Homo sapiens: one gene and its partner. The protein of the gene in region 1 interacts with the protein of each later gene in a biochemical or structural test. Each region holds a gene or a part of one and is shown on either strand. Other genes may lie near its edges.

Evidence for each region. Proteins that work in one complex are often made in the same cells at the same time.
Region 2: the proteins of CNN1 (region 1) and DNMBP form a complex in vitro, tested with the Homo sapiens proteins (one study listed by BioGRID).

What each region holds. Positions count from the first base shown.
Region 1 is NC_000019.10:11,533,367-11,542,929, forward strand, and holds the start of CNN1 (calponin-1), read left to right. Parts: upstream 1-5,484; 5' UTR 5,485-5,561; coding exon 5,562-5,624; intron 5,625-5,928; exon of another isoform or gene 5,929-6,203; intron 6,204-6,618; exon of another isoform or gene 6,619-7,059; coding exon of another isoform or gene 7,060-7,320; intron 7,321-7,709; coding exon 7,710-7,831; intron 7,832-9,563. UniProt on the Homo sapiens protein: Thin filament-associated protein that is implicated in the regulation and modulation of smooth muscle contraction. It is capable of binding to actin, calmodulin and tropomyosin. The interaction of calponin with actin inhibits the actomyosin Mg-ATPase activity.
Region 2 is NC_000010.11:99,950,948-99,959,116, reverse strand, and holds part of DNMBP (dynamin-binding protein), read left to right. Parts: intron 1-118; exon of another isoform or gene 119-1,911; coding exon 1,912-3,903; intron 3,904-8,169. UniProt on the Homo sapiens protein: Plays a critical role as a guanine nucleotide exchange factor (GEF) for CDC42 in several intracellular processes associated with the actin and microtubule cytoskeleton.

The sequences.
Region 1 (9,563 bases):
CTCCTGCCTCAGCCTCCCAAGTAGCTGGGACTACAGGCGCCCGCCACCACGCCCGGCTAATTTTTTGTATTTTTAGTAGAGACAGGGTTTCACCATGTTGGCCAGGATGGTCTCGATCTCCTGACCTCGTGATCCGCCTGCCTTGGCCTCCCAAAGTGCTGGGATTACAGGCGTGAGCCACCACACCCGGCCGTCAAGCATTCTTTTCTTTTCTTATTTATTTATTTTTCACCCAAACTAAAATGCAATGGCATGGCTGGACACAGTGGCTCATGCCTGTAATCCCAGCACTTTGGGAGGCCAAGGCAAGCAGATTACCTGAGGTCAGTAGTTCGAGACCAGTCTGGCCAACATGGTGAAACCCCATCTCTACTAAAAATACAAAAATTAGCCCGGTATGGTGGTGGGCACCTGTAATCCCAGCTACTCAGGAGGCTGAGGCAGGATAATTGCTTGAACCTGGGAGGTGGAAGTTGCAGTGAGCTGAGATCATGCCACTGTACTCCGGCCTGGGTGACAGAGTGAGATTCTGTAAAAAAAAAAAAAAAAAAAAAAATAAGCAGTGTCATGATCATAGCTCACTGTAGCCTCCAACTCCTGGGCTCAAGCAATCCTCCTGCCTTGCCCTCCCAAAATGCACTTTTTTAAAAAGCTCTCTCTCTTTTTTTTTTTTTTGTAGAGGCAGGGCCCTGCCATGTCTCCCAGGCTGGTCTTGAACTGCTGGCCTCAAACAATCTGCCCATCTTGGCCTCCCAAAGTGCTGGAATTACAGACACGAGCCACTGCACCCAGACTATAAGTGAACAGCTCCCTCCCTGTCCACCCACTCACAGTCAGTCTGGGGGTGAGAGATGCTATTATTTTACAGCAGGTGGTCAGGGAAGGCCTCTCTGAGAGGTGATATTAGAGCAGAGACTGAATGAAGTTGGGGAGAGGCCATGCAGGCATCTTGCAGAAATGTGTTCCAGGTGGCAGGAACTGCTATTGTAAAGACCCTGAGGTGGGAACATGTTTGGGGACTCAAGAAACACATCTGTAGCCCAGCGTGGTAGCGGGTGCCTGTAATCCCAGCTACTTGGGAGGCTGAGGCTCCAGAATTGCTTGAAACCAGGAGGTGGAGGTTGCAGTGAACCGAGATCATGCCACTCCAACCTGAGCGACAGAGCGATACTCTGACTCAAAAAAAAAAAAAAAAGGAGAAGAAGAAGAAGAAATAAGGAGAAGGGAGAAGAGAGAAGGGAGAAGGGGAAGAAGGAGAAGGAGGAGGAGAAGGAAGAAAGAAGAAAGAAGAAGAAGGAGGAGGAGGAGAAGCAGCAGCAGAAGAAGAGGAAGAAGAAGGAGAACAAGAAGAAAAAGAGGAAGAGGAAGAAGAAGAGGAAGAAGAAGGAGAAGGAGAAGGAGCAGCAGCAGCAGCGGAAGAGGAAGAGGAAGAAAAGAAAGAAGAAAGAAGAAAGAAGGAGAAGGAGAAGGAGAAGAAAGAAGAAAGAAGAAAGAAGAAGAAGAAGAAGAGGGAGAAGAAGAAGAAGAAACAGCACATCTGGAGGGACTTGGAAGAAAAGGTACAAACAGTGTTACCTGGGAGGGTGGCTTGGCTTCTCTGAACCTTGAGTTTCCCATCTATAAAATGGACCTATGAGTTTCTACCCTCAGAAGGTGATGGTGAGGATTAAAAGAGATTGTGGCTGGCATGGAGTGAGTGTTCCCATAACAGAAGCCTTTAGGAACAAGAGCCTCTGCCAGATTTCTGGATAGGAAAGCTTCGTGAGGAGGGAGCTTGCAGAGCAGGATGCCAAGATAGGCCGGTGCAGAGCAGGGCTTTGACTTTCCCCAAAACACACAGACAAACACGTGTGAGTGTGGGTTTTATTTTTATTTTTACATTTTTTGAGTCAGAGTCTCACTCCCGTGGCCCAGGCTGGAGTGCAGTGGTGTGATCTTGGCTCACTGCAACCTCTGCCTGACATGCCGGGTTCAAGCAATTCTCCTGCCTCAGCCTCCCGAGTAGCTGGGATTACAGGCATGTACCACCATGCCCGGCTAATTTTGTATTTTTAGTAGACACGGGGTTTCACCATGTTGGTCAGGCTGGTCTTGAACTACTGACCTCAGGTGATCCACCCGCCTTGGCCTCTCAAAGTGCTGGGATTACAGGCGTGAGAAACCACGCCCGGCCAAGTGTGAGTTTTAAATGGTTCTGAGCATCAGGAAGGTTTTAGGGGGTCCCCTGAAGTTGAGGAGAGGCATGGCTTTCCTACAATGACTGTCCTAGACCCTTCGGGAAACCGTGCCTCTTACAAGATCCTACACTTCTCATTTAGATGGTAAACTGAGGCACAGAGGGGCTAGAGCCTGGAAAATGCCAGAAAGGAGCGAATAAGGGATGACACTCGGGTGTCTACTGGGATTGGGGCCTCGATATGGGATCAGCCCCCTCTAATGCCTCTACCCCCATCTACCAGACAGAGACGCGAAGAGAGACGGACAATACAGCGACAGCGACATGAAGAGAAACAGAATGACTCAAAGACCAGGCACAGAAACAGAGACACAGAGACAAAGGCAGAGACAGAAAAAGGCTCAGCGACCCAGAGACGGAGATACAGAGACACAGACCTACTACAATCAGAGGGACAAGGCAGTCCCCGAAAGGGCTGCCCCCTGGGGGTACCCGGGGCTGCCCCGTTGGGGGGCACGCCAAGAGCTCCCCCACCCCGCCCCCGTCGTGCCTGGGCCGTGACTTCAGAGTCCGTGCAGATTCTATAAATGGCCAAGAGGCCGCGGGCCGGGGGGCGGGGCCGAGTGAGTCATCGCGTGACGTCACCGCCGCCTGGACCTCGCCAGGTCCCGCCCCCGCCCCTCCCGGGCCGCCAGGGGGCGCCGGCTGCAGGTCCTCACATGCGCAGTAGCGAACTGCGGCCCCCGAGGGCCGCTCAGTTTGGGAGGGATCCAGGAATCTGCGCGTTCGAATCCCGCCCCTGCCACCCTCGAGCTGTGTGACCCGGCCATTCGGCGTCACCTCTCTGTGCCTCGTATAGACCCACCTCATAAGGCTGTCGTGAGGAATGAGTTAACAGGCTCAAAGCTCTTAGTACGTAGCAGGTGCTAATTGTTAGCTCATTTTATGTACTTTCTATTTTTTCTTTTTTTTTTTTTTAAATAGAGACGGGGTCTCGCTATGTTGCCTAAGCTGGTCTCGGGTCTCGAACTCCAGGGCTCAAGCGATCCTCCCGCCTTGGCCTCGTATTTTATGTATTTTCGTGTATGTTCAACATATCATGACATGCCATCAACTAGCACATTGCCTTAGCTCAGTGGTTGGCAAACAGGGGTGATCTGCTTCCACCCCGACCCCAATCATGGGACATTGGCAATGTGTGTAGACATTTCTTCTTTTAATTTTTCTTTTTTAGAGACCATGGTCTTGCTATCTTGGCCAGATGGTTCTCAAACTCCTGGGCTCAAGGGATCCTCCCACCTCAGCCTCCTTAGTAGCTGGGACTACAGGGTCCTGCCGCAGTGCCTCAACATTTCTGTTTATTAGGACTAAGAGAGTGCTACTGGCATGTAGCAGGTAGAGGCCAGGCATGCTGCTTGAAGTCTTACAATGAATGCCCAAGGCAGCCCCCCAACCATGAAGAATTATCCAGCCTCAGCTGTCAACAGTGTGGAGGTTGAGAAACCCCACCTTAGCCTCATAGTTGAGGTTCATGGAGCATGGTCTCAAATTCTCCTCTGCCCCTGGCCTGCTGTGTGACGCTGAAAAAGTGATTCCAAGCCCCCGTGCCTCAGTTTCCCCACCTGTAAAGCAAAGTACTTGTATTAATAATAACAGTGTCAGCTGGGCACGGTGGCTCACGCCTGTAATCCCAGCACTTTGCAAGGCCGAGGTGGGCAGATCAACTGAGGTCAGGAGTTCGAGACCAGCCTGGCTAACATGGCAAAACCCCGTCTCTACTAAAAATACAAAAAATAGCCAGTCGTGGTGGCAGACACCTGTCATCCCAGCTACTTGGGAGGCTGAGGCAGGAGAATCGCTTGAACCCAGGAGGTGGAGGTTGCAGTGAGCCGAGATAGCATCACTGCACTCCAGCCTGGGGAATAGAGACTCTGTCTCCAAATAATAATAATAATAATAATAATAATAATAATAACAGTGTCCATCTCTGAGGGCGTCATGAGAATTGAATGGATATATGTACAGAGTTGGAACATGGCCTGACATAAGGGCTGTAGTCTGTGGCATATTGCAGCCATGCCATTAGCATGTGACCGATAAACTGCATATCCTCAACATATCATTAGTGTGTGGCAGGTTGCAGACATGTCATCCAAGTGTCACAAACATGGCCTTGCCATGTGGGGCATGATGTGGGCATAGCATCCACCCCTGTGGTCCAGGGGTGAGATCTGGCTGGGTAGGGCTGTTTGACAGGGACACAGTTCACGGCCTGGGACTTGCCAACAAAGTCACCCTGTAGTTCAGGTGACACACAAGTGGATGGGGAGGGTGAGACCCAGGATCTCTTCTCCCCCAGGTCCTTATGAGGGGCTGGAGGAGACAGAACTGGGGTGCTGGACCCTCAGCATAAAGAATGCTATAGGCTGGGCATGGTGACTCATGCCTGTAAATCCCAGCGTTTTGGGAGGCCAAGGCGGGCAGATTGCTTGAGCCCAGAAATTTGAGACCAGCCTGGGCAACATAGCGAGACCCCGGGCAACATAGCGAGACCCCATCTCTAAAAAAATAAAATAAAATTAGCCAGGTTGGTGGCACAAGTCTGCAATTCTAACTACTTGGATGGGCTGAGATGGGAGGATCACTTGAGCCTGGGAGGTCAAGGCTGCAGTGAGCTGTGATTGTGCCACTGCACTCCAGCCGAGGGGACAGAGTGAAACCTTGCCTTAAAAAGACTGCTATGGCCCGAGTCCCTCTGCTGTGCCGGGCACTGTGCTGGGCATGTAACAGGCATATTCTTCTGATCTTTACAACTCTCCCATGAGGCAGGCACTATCGTTAGCCCATTTTACAGATGTGGCCATAGAGGCCCAGAGAGGAGAAGGGGCTTACCTAAGGCTATAGACTGTTGGTATCTGGAGATAAACCCGGGATGGTGCTCACTAAACTACCTTGGGTGTCAGTCCTGCTTCAAGACTCCAGAGAGATAAAGAGAGATGACCTCAGAGACAAAGAGACTCAGACCCAGCCAGAGGCCCAATGGACAGTGGGAGGGGTGGGTGGAAGAAGGCTGGTCTCTGTCTGACCAAGCCCCCCCAGAATAACGCAGGCTGCCCCCCTAGGTGGAAACAATGACACAATCAGCTCCCAATACCAAGGGCCTGACATCACAAGGGGAGGGGAAGGCAGCTGAGGTTGTGGGGGGAGGTGCCCCGCCCCTTGGCAGGCCCCTACAGCCAATGGAACGGCCCTGGAAGAGACCCGGGTCGCCTCCGGAGCTTCAAAAACATGTGAGGAGGGAAGAGTGTGCAGACGGAACTTCAGCCGCTGCCTCTGTTCTCAGCGTCAGTGCCGCCACTGCCCCCGCCAGAGCCCACCGGCCAGCATGTCCTCTGCTCACTTCAACCGAGGCCCTGCCTACGGGCTGTCAGCCGAGGTTAAGAACAAGGTAGGGCTGGAGGGCCTCCCTGGCCTGGCCCACACGTCCTGCCAGGCCAGAGCCCTGAGCTTGGGGTCCCTTGAACCCCCTCCTGCCTATCCTATGTGACTTGGAAACTGAGAGGGGAAAAGGGAGTGATATGGGATAGGGGCTGCCTGTCTCCCCCTGAACATCCCGGAGCCCCCAGCTATGGTTGGGGCTGGAATGGGGGGGCACACAGCCACACATAAACAGAGGGGGTCAGTCCATTGCAAAGATACCCACCTGATCAGTCTTCTGTTAACCCTTCGTGTTCTTGGGGGGAACAACATAGGGGGAAGACTTGTTGATTTTTCCATATCCCCCGGCCTGACAAAGAAATTGGGGAGCGCTTGAGTGCTGGGGTACCTGGGAAGTGACGCCGTGAAAGTGTGGGAGATCCTGAAGACAGAGGGGGACGGTGAAAGGCAGGAAGCGGGCATCAGAAGTGCGGCAGGGGTCTCCTGACTGTGGAGCTAGGAAGATACCTGGACACCACCTTCATGCTATGGTTGGGTAAACTGAGGTTCGGAGAGGAGAGGCAAATAGCTGGGGTCCCAGGTAAAGCAGGTACAGCGCTCGGACCCTGGACTCACCCCCCATACACCAGGATGGGCTCAGCTTCTCCCAGCTGGAGAACTTTAAGTTTCCAGCCCACTGGAATCGCCCCAACAGTATTGCCGAGGGAGGAGTTCCTGCCCCATTTGACAGAGGGGAACACTGAGGCTCAGGGTGGCTTTTCCCAGGGTCCCATGGTGAGGAAGTGGGGGACTGGGTTGGAACCTGGGTCGAGGGATCTCGGGGCTGGAGGAGGGGGCTGGTGGGGGGCGGGTCCTCGGGCGAGAGACAGATCCCAGCGCCGCCCTCCTCCCCCCCAGCGCCGGCCCCAGAGCCGCGCAGAGCCGCGCAGAGACGCCGCGCCTTATAAGGCGGCCTCGGGGAGCCCGGGCCACGCTATATAAGGGCCGGTTTGCTTTATAAAGCCGGGCTGGTGGCGTGGGGGGCGGCAGGGCCAGGGCCAGGTGAGGGGGCCGCCCCTCCCACCTCCCCCCACTCACCCGGGAGAAGAAGAGGCAGCCCGGTCCCCTAGGGGCTGGGAGCCTGGCTGGGCTTGGGCGGAGGGTTCTGGAGAAATGGGAGTGGAGTGGGGGAGGGGGGGGACAGTGGAGAGAGGGAAAAGCAGGGAGGTGGGGGGAGAGGCAGACAGAGATACTGGGAGCCTGAGACACCCTAGGGACAGACGGGGGAGGGCGAGCCAGGAGCGAGATAAGACCTAGACAAGGATGGAGGGGCAGGGAGAGGAGACAGAGCCCCACCACCCCCACCCCAGGCAGGAAACCTGGAGACAGAGAAAGACCTAGAGAGGCAGATATACAAGACCCAGGAGCCCTACCCCTGGCCAGACAGGGACTAGCCACCTAGAGAGATGGGGACCCAAGACTGGGCCAAGAAAAGACAGCGCTGGGGAAGAGAGAGACAGAGGAGTCGGGGGGATAAGAGGGAGAGAGACATACAGACGTGCAAGGGGTGGGGGCTAAGACAGAGACAAGCCCCCACCACTAACCAGAGACAGAGCCCTGGAGCTGAAGACCTGGGGGACACGGAGAGACAGAGATGTATGACCAGCACTCCTCTGCAAGCCAGCACCCAGGGACACCTCCTTAGACATCCTTCTTCCCTTCCTGAGGTGCCCTCTCTTCCAACAGGGGGCACAGAGGGGGCAGGGCTAGAGGAAGAGAAGCCCCAAGTTTGGCCTGGGCGAAAAACCAGGGTGCCGGGTGCCACCCCTCTAGCTCAGAGGATCCAGCTCCCCACACCCCACCCCTCATCTACATTCCCTGGTGCCAAACCTCAGAATGCCCGGAATGGCCCCCTGGGCAGGTGCCACCTCAGCCCTGGCTCTCAGCCCGCCCCAGCCCCCATCCCCCAACTATGGATCTGGGGCAAAATTGCCTTAGTTGGGAAGGACGAGGGAGATCAGGCTCTAGGAAGTTCAGACAGGACCCAGGGAGCCCAGGCTGCCCCCAATGCATCCTCACCCCTTTCTCTGTGCCCCCTGCCCTCCCCTCGCCCCAGCTGGCCCAGAAGTATGACCACCAGCGGGAGCAGGAGCTGAGAGAGTGGATCGAGGGGGTGACAGGCCGTCGCATCGGCAACAACTTCATGGACGGCCTCAAAGATGGCATCATTCTTTGCGAGTGAGTGAGGCTCTCGAAGCCGAGACCCTGCAACATCCCCCAACTCCATGCAGCCCCTCAACCCCCAAAACAACCATGATCCTGGAACTGAGTTGAACACTTTCTATTGGATACCTTTGGGGTGGCCAGTAATCATTGTGCCCATTTAACAGGCACAGAAAACTGAGGCTCAGGTGAAATGCATTGCACCAAGTCCCACGTGGTTTCAAGGGAAATGACTCTAGAATCTTAACCACCATGCTATATAGGGTAGGCCCATCTGTGGCCGCCAGAGTCCCCAGAAAGAGCGGTCACAGCTAAAAGGCAGCAGCCAACAGCTGTTCATGGCTGGCTTGGTGATGTGAGGAGAGATGTGCAGCAATAATTAAAGGAGGCCCTGGTTTTCTTTCTGTTTTCTTTTTGTTTTTTTGAGATACAGTCTTGTTCTGTTGCCCAGGCTGCAGTGCAGAGACACAATCTCGGCTCACTGCAACCTCCGCCTCCAGGGTTTAAGTGATTCTCCTGCCTCAGCCTCCCCAATAGCTGGGATTACAGGCACGCACCACCATGCCTGGCTAATTTTTGTATTTTTTTAAAGTAGAGATGGGGTTTCACCATGTTGGCCAGGATGGTTACGAACTCCTGACCTCAATTGATCCACCTACCTCAGCCTCCCAAAGTGCTGGGATTACAGGCACGTGCCACCATGCCCGGTTAATTTTTGTTTTTTTTTTTTTTTTTTCAGTAGAGATGGAGTTTCACCATGTTGACTAGGCTGGTCTTGAACTCCTGACTTCAAGTGATCCACCTGCCTTGGCCTCCCAAAGTGCTGGGATTGCAGGCACATGCCACCACGCCTGGCTAATTTTTGTATTTTTTTTTTTTTTTTTTAGTAGAGACAGTGTTTCACCATGTTGACCGGGCTGGTCTCAAACTCCTGACCTCAAGTGATCCACCTGCCTCGGCCTCCCAAATTGCTGGGATTACAGGCATGAGCCACCTCGCCCGACCTTCTTCTTCTTCTTCTTTTTTTTGAGATGGAGTCTTCCTCTGTCACCCGGGCTGGAGTGCAGTGACATGATCTCAGCTCACTGCAACCTCTGCTTTCCGGGTTCAAGTGATTCTTGTGTCTCAGCCTCCTGAGCAGCTGGGATTACAGGTGCCCACCACCTTGCCCGGATAACTTTTGTATTTTTAGTAGAGACGGGATTTTGCCATGTTGGCCTGGCTGGTCTCGAACTCCTGACCTCAAGTGATCCACCCGCCTTAGTCTCACAAAGTGCTGGCATTACAGGCATGAACCACTGCACCCTGCCGGCCCTGGTTTTCTCCTCGCCTCAAAACCTCATTGCTGAGGGAGGTGAAAACCCTAACAGCTCCCAAGCCCCAGTTCCACTGCAATCTTTTTTTTTTTTTTCAGATGGAATCTTGCTTTGTGACCCAGGCTGGAGTGCAGTGGCATGATCTTGGCTCACTGCAAGCTCTGCCTCCCAGGTTCAAGCAATTCTCCTGCCTCAGCCTCCTGAGTAGCTGGGATTACAGGTGCCCGCCACCACGCCCAGCTAATTTTTGTATTTTTAGTAGAGACGGGGTTTCACCATGTTGGTCAGGCTGGTCTCGAACCCCTGACCTTGTGATCCACCCACCTCGGCCTCCCAAAGTGCTGGGATTATAGGCGTGAGCCACCGCGCCCGGCTCCACTGCAATCTTAATGCATAGCAGGGCCCTAAACCCAGCCTGCGCCCGATCTGCA
Region 2 (8,169 bases), on another chromosome or scaffold:
ATTTTTAATGTTCAACTTACTAAAAGAAAACCAGATTCTATTTGCATCTGTATTCAATCTGTTGCAATGTGTTGTTTTCATGGAATTATGTGAAGAAAATCCAGCCTTACACAAATATGCAATGGGAGACAGGAAAAGGTATTTTAATAGTCTTTTCAAATAATTGCAAATATTCATCGTTGACACTGCACCAAAATTCAACGATTGGTAATTTCTTACGAGTTAATTGCAGTGTGGGATCTGAAACTACGTCGGTGAACTTTCATAATATTACACTAAAATTCATTAATCTATCTTGCTTTTGGAGTGTGAATCTTTTAGCCATGAATGATTTTATACCAGCATGCATTTGTCATTTAGGAAATATTGATTCAATTAGCTACTCAGTTATTCCAAATGTTGACCATTTCAACATACAATGTGAAAAAATCATATTTGTTACTATCTCATCAGAAGAATCTTTAAGTATGGGAAAGCTGCCAAGCCCATGGTAGTAGATACAAGTTTTCCAAAATTCTCATTTTCTCTTGGAAGTTGGAATTTTATCATTGGCAACAAATACTGTCATTTGTTCTCCTTGATGTTTCAGACTCACTTTCATTTTGGAGGAAACATCTGCCAGATATCTAAGTCTGAATAAACATAGTTGTCTGTTATTCATTCTTGCACATAAAATGGTGTTATGTGAAAATAAACAGACGGTTCAGGCATATAACTCAGTTACTCGTGCTTCTCCTCAGCAGTAAAAGTGCTTTATGTGTAATTCCTATATTGTCACACAGAATATTACAAAAGAATTGTTCTTAAGGGTTGAGATTTAGCACAGTGCATAATTTGTATTGCTTCTTAACTGAAAATGGCTTTTTTAAAAACTGTGAGTACATGGTTGTGAAGAATACGATGACCATACAGTGACTATTCATGTAATTTGTGGCTACTGCCTTTGCTTATGAATTGCCAGCAGTTTTTAATTAATTTATTATTTTTTTGAGATGGAGTCTTGCTCTGTTGCCCAAGCTGGAGTGCAGTGGTGCGATCTCGGCTCACTGCGACCTCTGCCTCCTGAGTTTAATTTCTGCCTCAGCCTCCTGAATAGCTGGGACTACAGGCACGTGCCACCATGCTCAGCTAATTTTTGTATTTTTAGTAGAGATGGTGTTTCACCATGTTGACCAGGCTGCTCTCGAACTCCTGACCTCAAGTGATCCGCCTGCCTTGGCCTCCCAAAGTGCTGGGATCACAGGCATGAGCCATCGCGCCCAGCCATTTTATTTTTATTTTTGAGACAAGTGTTGCTCTGTCACCCAGACTGGAGCGTAGTGGTGAAATCACAGCTTACTGCAGCCTTGACCTCCTGGGTTCAAGCTATCCTCCCACCTCAGCCTCCTGAATAGCTGGGACTACAGGCATGAGCCACAGTGCACAGCTAATTTTTAAATTTATTGTAGAGACAAGGTCTTGACATGTTGCCCAGGCTGGTTTTGAACTCCTGGTCTCAAGCGATCCTCCTGCCTTGGCCTCCCAAAGTGCTCGGATTTCTGGTGTAAGCCACAGCACCTAGCTGGCCAGCAGTTTTAATCACCATTGCTTTTTCACAGAGATTACAAAAGTCAGCAGAGTAAAATATGTAGATAAAGTCTTAGTGTTATTATGAGAATGGTTTTGACCTCACAGATTCTCTGCTAGGATCTTGGAGACCCACCTGTAGGGTTCCATGGAACACTCTGAAAACTACAGGTTTATAGAACTGCTCCAATTCAATAAATTGTCAAAATTGTTCATGCTCCTAAAGCTCTAGGTGTATTTCCTTGAATTTGGTAGCTGTTTAAAATGAGAGGTTGCACTATTAGTCGTGATAATGTTCTGCTGGGTGATGACTGAGGTCACCATCTCTGCTCCTCTTTTCTTTAGGTGACCTGGTGATTCTCGATGGCATTCCCACTGCAGGCTGGCTGCAGGGCCGAAGCTGCTGGGGCGCACGGGGCTTCTTCCCATCTTCATGTGTCCGCGAGCTCTGCCTCTCCTCACAGAGCCGGCAGTGGCACTCCCAGAGCGCCCTGTTTCAGATTCCGGAATATTCCATGGGACAAGCCCGGGCCCTAATGGGGCTTTCTGCTCAGCTGGATGAAGAGCTGGACTTCAGGGAAGGGGATGTGATCACCATTATTGGAGTTCCTGAACCAGGCTGGTTTGAAGGGGAGTTAGAGGGCCGAAGAGGCATTTTTCCAGAAGGTTTTGTAGAGCTGTTGGGGCCCCTGAGGACTGTGGATGAGTCAGTAAGTTCTGGAAATCAAGATGACTGCATTGTTAATGGTGAAGTAGATACCCCTGTAGGAGAAGAAGAGATAGGGCCGGATGAGGATGAGGAGGAGCCAGGGACCTATGGGGTCGCCCTGTACAGATTCCAAGCCCTGGAGCCAAATGAGCTGGATTTCGAGGTCGGGGATAAAATCCGAATTCTGGCGACCTTGGAAGATGGCTGGCTGGAAGGATCCCTGAAGGGCAGGACAGGCATCTTTCCTTACCGGTTTGTGAAATTATGTCCTGACACACGGGTGGAGGAAACCATGGCTCTGCCCCAGGAAGGCAGCCTTGCCAGGATCCCGGAAACTTCTTTGGATTGTTTGGAGAACACCTTAGGAGTAGAGGAACAAAGACATGAAACCAGTGACCATGAGGCCGAGGAGCCTGACTGCATTATTTCTGAAGCACCCACTTCTCCCCTCGGTCATCTGACTTCAGAGTATGACACAGACAGAAACTCTTATCAGGACGAGGACACCGCAGGAGGGCCCCCGAGAAGCCCAGGCGTGGAGTGGGAAATGCCTCTTGCCACAGACTCTCCCACATCTGACCCTACAGAAGTAGTCAATGGTATTTCCTCCCAACCTCAGGTCCCTTTTCATCCCAACTTGCAGAAAAGCCAGTATTATTCTACAGTGGGAGGGAGCCACCCGCACTCAGAACAGTACCCCGACCTTCTTCCCCTAGAAGCAAGGACTAGAGACTATGCCAGCCTACCTCCCAAAAGAATGTATTCCCAGCTAAAAACTCTTCAGAAGCCAGTGCTCCCTCTTTACAGGGGCTCTTCTGTTTCAGCTTCAAGGGTAGTCAAACCCAGACAATCAAGTCCTCAGCTCCACAACCTAGCAAGTTATACTAAAAAGCACCACACGTCCAGTGTTTACTCCATCTCAGAGAGATTGGAGATGAAGCCTGGTCCGCAAGCCCAAGGGCTTGTTATGGAAGCAGCAACACATTCACAGGGAGACGGCAGCACTGACCTGGACTCGAAGCTGACACAACAGCTGATCGAGTTTGAGAAGAGCTTGGCAGGGCCCGGCACAGAGCCAGATAAAATTTTACGCCACTTTTCAATCATGGACTTTAACTCTGAGAAGGATATTGTCCGAGGTTCCTCAAAGTTAATCACCGAGCAGGAGCTGCCGGAAAGGAGAAAGGCCCTAAGGCCACCGCCACCTCGTCCCTGTACTCCGGTATCCACTTCTCCCCATTTGCTGGTTGACCAGAACCTAAAACCTGCACCACCCTTGGTGGTGCGACCCTCTCGCCCAGCTCCCCTGCCTCCCTCAGCACAGCAGAGAACGAATGCGGTATCCCCCAAGCTCCTATCTCGACACCGTCCTACCTGTGAGACCTTAGAAAAGGAGGGCCCTGGTCATATGGGAAGGAGTCTGGACCAGACCTCCCCATGCCCCTTAGTGCTGGTGAGGATTGAGGAAATGGAGCGGGACTTGGATATGTACAGTAGAGCTCAAGAAGAGCTAAACCTCATGCTGGAGGAGAAGCAGGATGAATCATCAAGAGCAGAGACCCTCGAGGATCTCAAGTTCTGTGAAAGTAACATTGAAAGTTTGAATATGGAACTCCAGCAACTAAGAGGTAAGTGACGAGGAAATAATATGTAATTGTTTCTTGACACTCACAAGTCCCAGAAACAGCCTACCCAGGCTTTTTAGGGATATGTTACCATCCTCGATGGACAAAAAATGATTTACATTTTCATTACCTAATTTCTTTTCTTTTTTTTTTTTTCCTTTTTTTTGAGACAGTCTCGCTCTGTTGCCCAGGCTGGAGTGCAGTGGCATGAACTTGGCTCACTGCAGCCTCCACCTCCTGGGCTCAAGTGATTCTCCTGCCTCAGCCTCCCAAATGGCTGGGATTGCAGACATGCGCCATCACCACACCTGGCTAATTTTTGTATTTTTAGTAGAGACAGTGTTTTGCCATGTTGCCAGGCTGGTCTTGAACTCCTGGCCTTGGGTGATCCACCTGCCTCGGCCTCCCAAAGTGTTGGGATTACAGGCATGAGCCACCACGCCCGGCCTCTTTTTTTTTTTTTTTTTTTTTTGAGACAGAGTTTCGCTCTTGTTGCCCAGGCTGGAGTGCAATGGCGCGACCTTGGCTTACCACAACCTCTGCCTCCCAGGTTCAAGCGATTCTCCTGCCTCAGCCTCCTGAGTAGCTGGGATTACAGGCAAGCGCCACCATGCCTGGCTAATTTTGTATTTTTAGTAGAGATGGGAATTCTCCATGTTGGTCAGGCTGGTCTCGAACTCCTGACCTCAGGTGATCCGCCCACCTTGACCTCCCAAAGTGCTGGGATTACAGGCATGAGCCACCGCACCCAGCCTCACTACCTAATTTCTTATTTCATCACCCTAGATAGGCTGTCTTGAGCCTCTGACTCTGTTTTGAGCCTATGACTGCTGTAGCCTCCTGACTTCATTTGCTGCTCAGATAAAGAATCTCAAACCTTGCCGGGTGCGGTGGCTCACACCTGTGATCCCAGCACTTCGGAAGGCTGCGGTGGGTGGATTGCTTGAGCCCAGGAGTTTGAGACCAGCCTGGGCAACAGGGCCAAACCCTGCTTCTACAAAAAAATACAAAAAATAATTAGCCAGGAGTGGTGGTATATCCCAGTAGTCCCAGCTACTCGGGAGGCTGAGGTGGGAGGATTGCTTGAACCTGGGAGGCAGAGGTTGCTGTGAGCAATGATCATGCCACTGCTCTCCAGCTTGGGCAACAGAGTGAGACCCTGTCTCCAAAAAAAAAAAGAATCTCATACCTCGGAGACACATATACCTCTGGGACATTTATGTCTCTTATTCTGCTATGGCATCCATAGCAGTGGTGCAGATGGGAAGTCCCTAAGTAGAACTTTCTTTAATCAGGCTCCATTAAGCACTAAAGACTTCCAGGTTAAGAAAGACTCATGAGAAAACTCCATCTTGTATCTTTGCTGTCCAGAGAGTAGATTTCTTTTTTTTCTTTTTTTTTTTGAGACAGAGTCTTACTCTGTCACCCAGGCTGTAGTGGTGAGATCTTGGCTCACTGCAACCTGTGCCTCCCGGGTTCAAGTGATCTCATGCCTCAGCCTCCTGAATAGCTGAGATTACAGGTGCATGCCACCACGCCTGGCTAATTTTTCTATTTTTAGCAGAGATGGGGTTTTGTCACATTGCCCAGGCTGGTCTCAAACTCCTGACCTCGAGTGATCCACCCACCTTGGCCTCCCAAAGTGCTGGGATACCATGCCTGGCCAAGGGAGTAGATTTTAATAATAGTAATAGCTAACATTTATTACCATATTAGTAAGCATGTGTTAGAATTTGCCTACAGGAAGAATGTTCACAGCTACCCTAAAGGTACAATGATAATTCATATGGCTACTCTATAGATGAGGAAACTAAGACATAGATATTGAGTAGGCTCAAGCCTGTAATACCAGCACTTTGGGAGGCCGACGTAGGAGGATCACTAGAGCCCAGGAGTTCAAGAGCAGCCTGGGCAACATAGAGAGACCTGTCTCTTAAAAAAAAAAAAAGTTTTAAATTAAATTTGAAAAGAGATTAAGTGACTTGCCAAGGGAGTTGGGATTTAAGCTTATGTTTCTAACAACTATAGTTCACCGCTTCCTATACTGGCACACTGAAAATTCAAATTATTTCCCTTAATTTGGGAATGATAAGCCTCTGGAGACTTCATTCATATTCACCAGACTCACAGGAGAAAAAATTTATAAATAGGAAGAGTACAAGAGGTAGGCAACCAACAGCAATTGGTCTAGGGCCCAAGAACGTGAATACATGTCACTTTTGGCTTGTGTACCAGAGATTTGAACTTATGTGTCATCAGGAAAGTCAATAATAGAAAGCAACCCAGGGGGTCTAGGAATAGCAGGATACTAATAAGAGATAAAAGCAGAATGGTGATCCAGAGATCCTGGATCAAGATGGCAGACTGAGCACATATAGCTACCTCCCTCCCTTTCTACTTTAGGTCTATAAAAGTGAATGGAAATAATAGAATAAAAAAATTCCAATAAAAAAGAGTATTATTGGAAATCAAGTAATCTTCTGAAAGATGATATAGCAGAAAGAGAGGGAAACCTCTATTCAAAATATTCTTAGGAAAGGACTATTATGCATGTGGGCAGAGTTCTAAGGGAACTGCAGACTAAGAGATGGTGCGGTAGGAGGGGTCCTAGAGCACATTCAGTGTAATTGATTAGGGGATAGCTAGGGAGCCAGGCCGCTGGGTTGCTTGTACTGAACAGCAGGAGCATTTACCCTCAAGCTACAGCATGAAGTAGATGCTTAGACAAGTCCTCAAAAAGGTGTTCATTTAATATGAGTACTTGAGCTCTCAGGGGAATGCCAGATACCTTGATTTCAGAGTCCCTGAAAAAGAATTCTGAGGGAACCTTGGCTGAGTGTTACATTCCCAAAGCCCTAGCAAACTCCAGATTCTCCATCACTTTCTATACCTACAAGTTTCAAGATAAACCTGTAAACAATTCTTGCATTAGATATTGTATTAGTCCATTTTCACACTGCTGATGAAGATACCAGATACTGGGCAATTTACAAAATGAAGAGGTTTAATGGACTTACAATTCCACATGGTTGGGGAGGCCTCACAATCATGGTGGAAGGCAAGGAGGAGCAAGTCACGTCTTACATGGATGATAGCAGGCAAAGAGAGAGTTTGTGTAGGGAGACTCCCATTTTTCAAAACCATCAGATCTCATGAGACTTACTCACTCTCACGAGAGCAGCACAGGAAAGACCTGCCCCCATGATTCAATTATCTCCCACCGGCTCCCTCCCACAACACATAGGAATTCAAGATGAGTTTGGAGTGGGGACACAGCCAAACCATATCATTCTGCCTGGATCCTCCCAAATCTCATGTCGTCACATTTCAAAACTAATCATGCCTTCCCAACAGTCCCCCAAAGTCTTAACTCATTTCAGCATTAACTCAAAAGTCCACAGTTCGACGTCTCATCTGAGACAAGGCAAGTCCCTTCTGCCTATGAGCCTGTAAAATCAAAAGCAAGTTAGTTACTTCCTAGAAACAATGGGGATACAGGCATTGGGTAAATACAGCCATTCCAAATGGGAGAAATTGGCCAAAACAAAGGGGCTACAGGCCCCACGCAAGTCTGAAATCCAGTGGGGCAGTCAAATCTTAAAGCTCCAAAATGATCTCCTTTGACTCCATGTCTCACAACGAGGTCACACCGATGCAAGAGGTGGGTTCCCATGGTGTTGGGCGGCTCTGCCCCTGTGGCTCTCCAGGGTACAGCCTCCCTCCTGGCTGCTTTCACGGGCTGATGTTGAGTGTCTACAGCTTTTCCAGGCACACGGTGCAAGCTGTTGGTGGATCTACCATTCTGGGGTCTGGAAGATTTTGGCCCTCTTCTCACAGCTCCACTAGGTGGTGCCCCAGTAGGGACTCTGTGTAGAGGCTCTGACCCCACATTTTCCTTCTGCACTGCCCCAGCAGAGGTTCTCCATGAGAGCCCTGCACCTGCAGCAAACTTCTGCCTGGACATCCAGGCATTTCCATACATCCTCTGAAATCGAGGCAGAGGTTCCCAAACCTCAGTTCTTCTGTGCACCCGCAGGCTCAACACCACATGGAAGCTGCCAAGGCTTGGGGCTTGCACCCTCTGAAGCCATGGCCTGAGTTCTACATTGGCCCCTTTCAGCCATGGCTGGAGCAGCTGGGACACAGGGCACCAAGTCCCTAGGCTGCACACAGCATAGTGATCCTGGGCACAGCCCAGGAAATCACTCTTTCCTCCTAGGCCTTTGGGCCTGTGATGGGTGCAGTTGCCGTGAAGACCTCTGACATGCC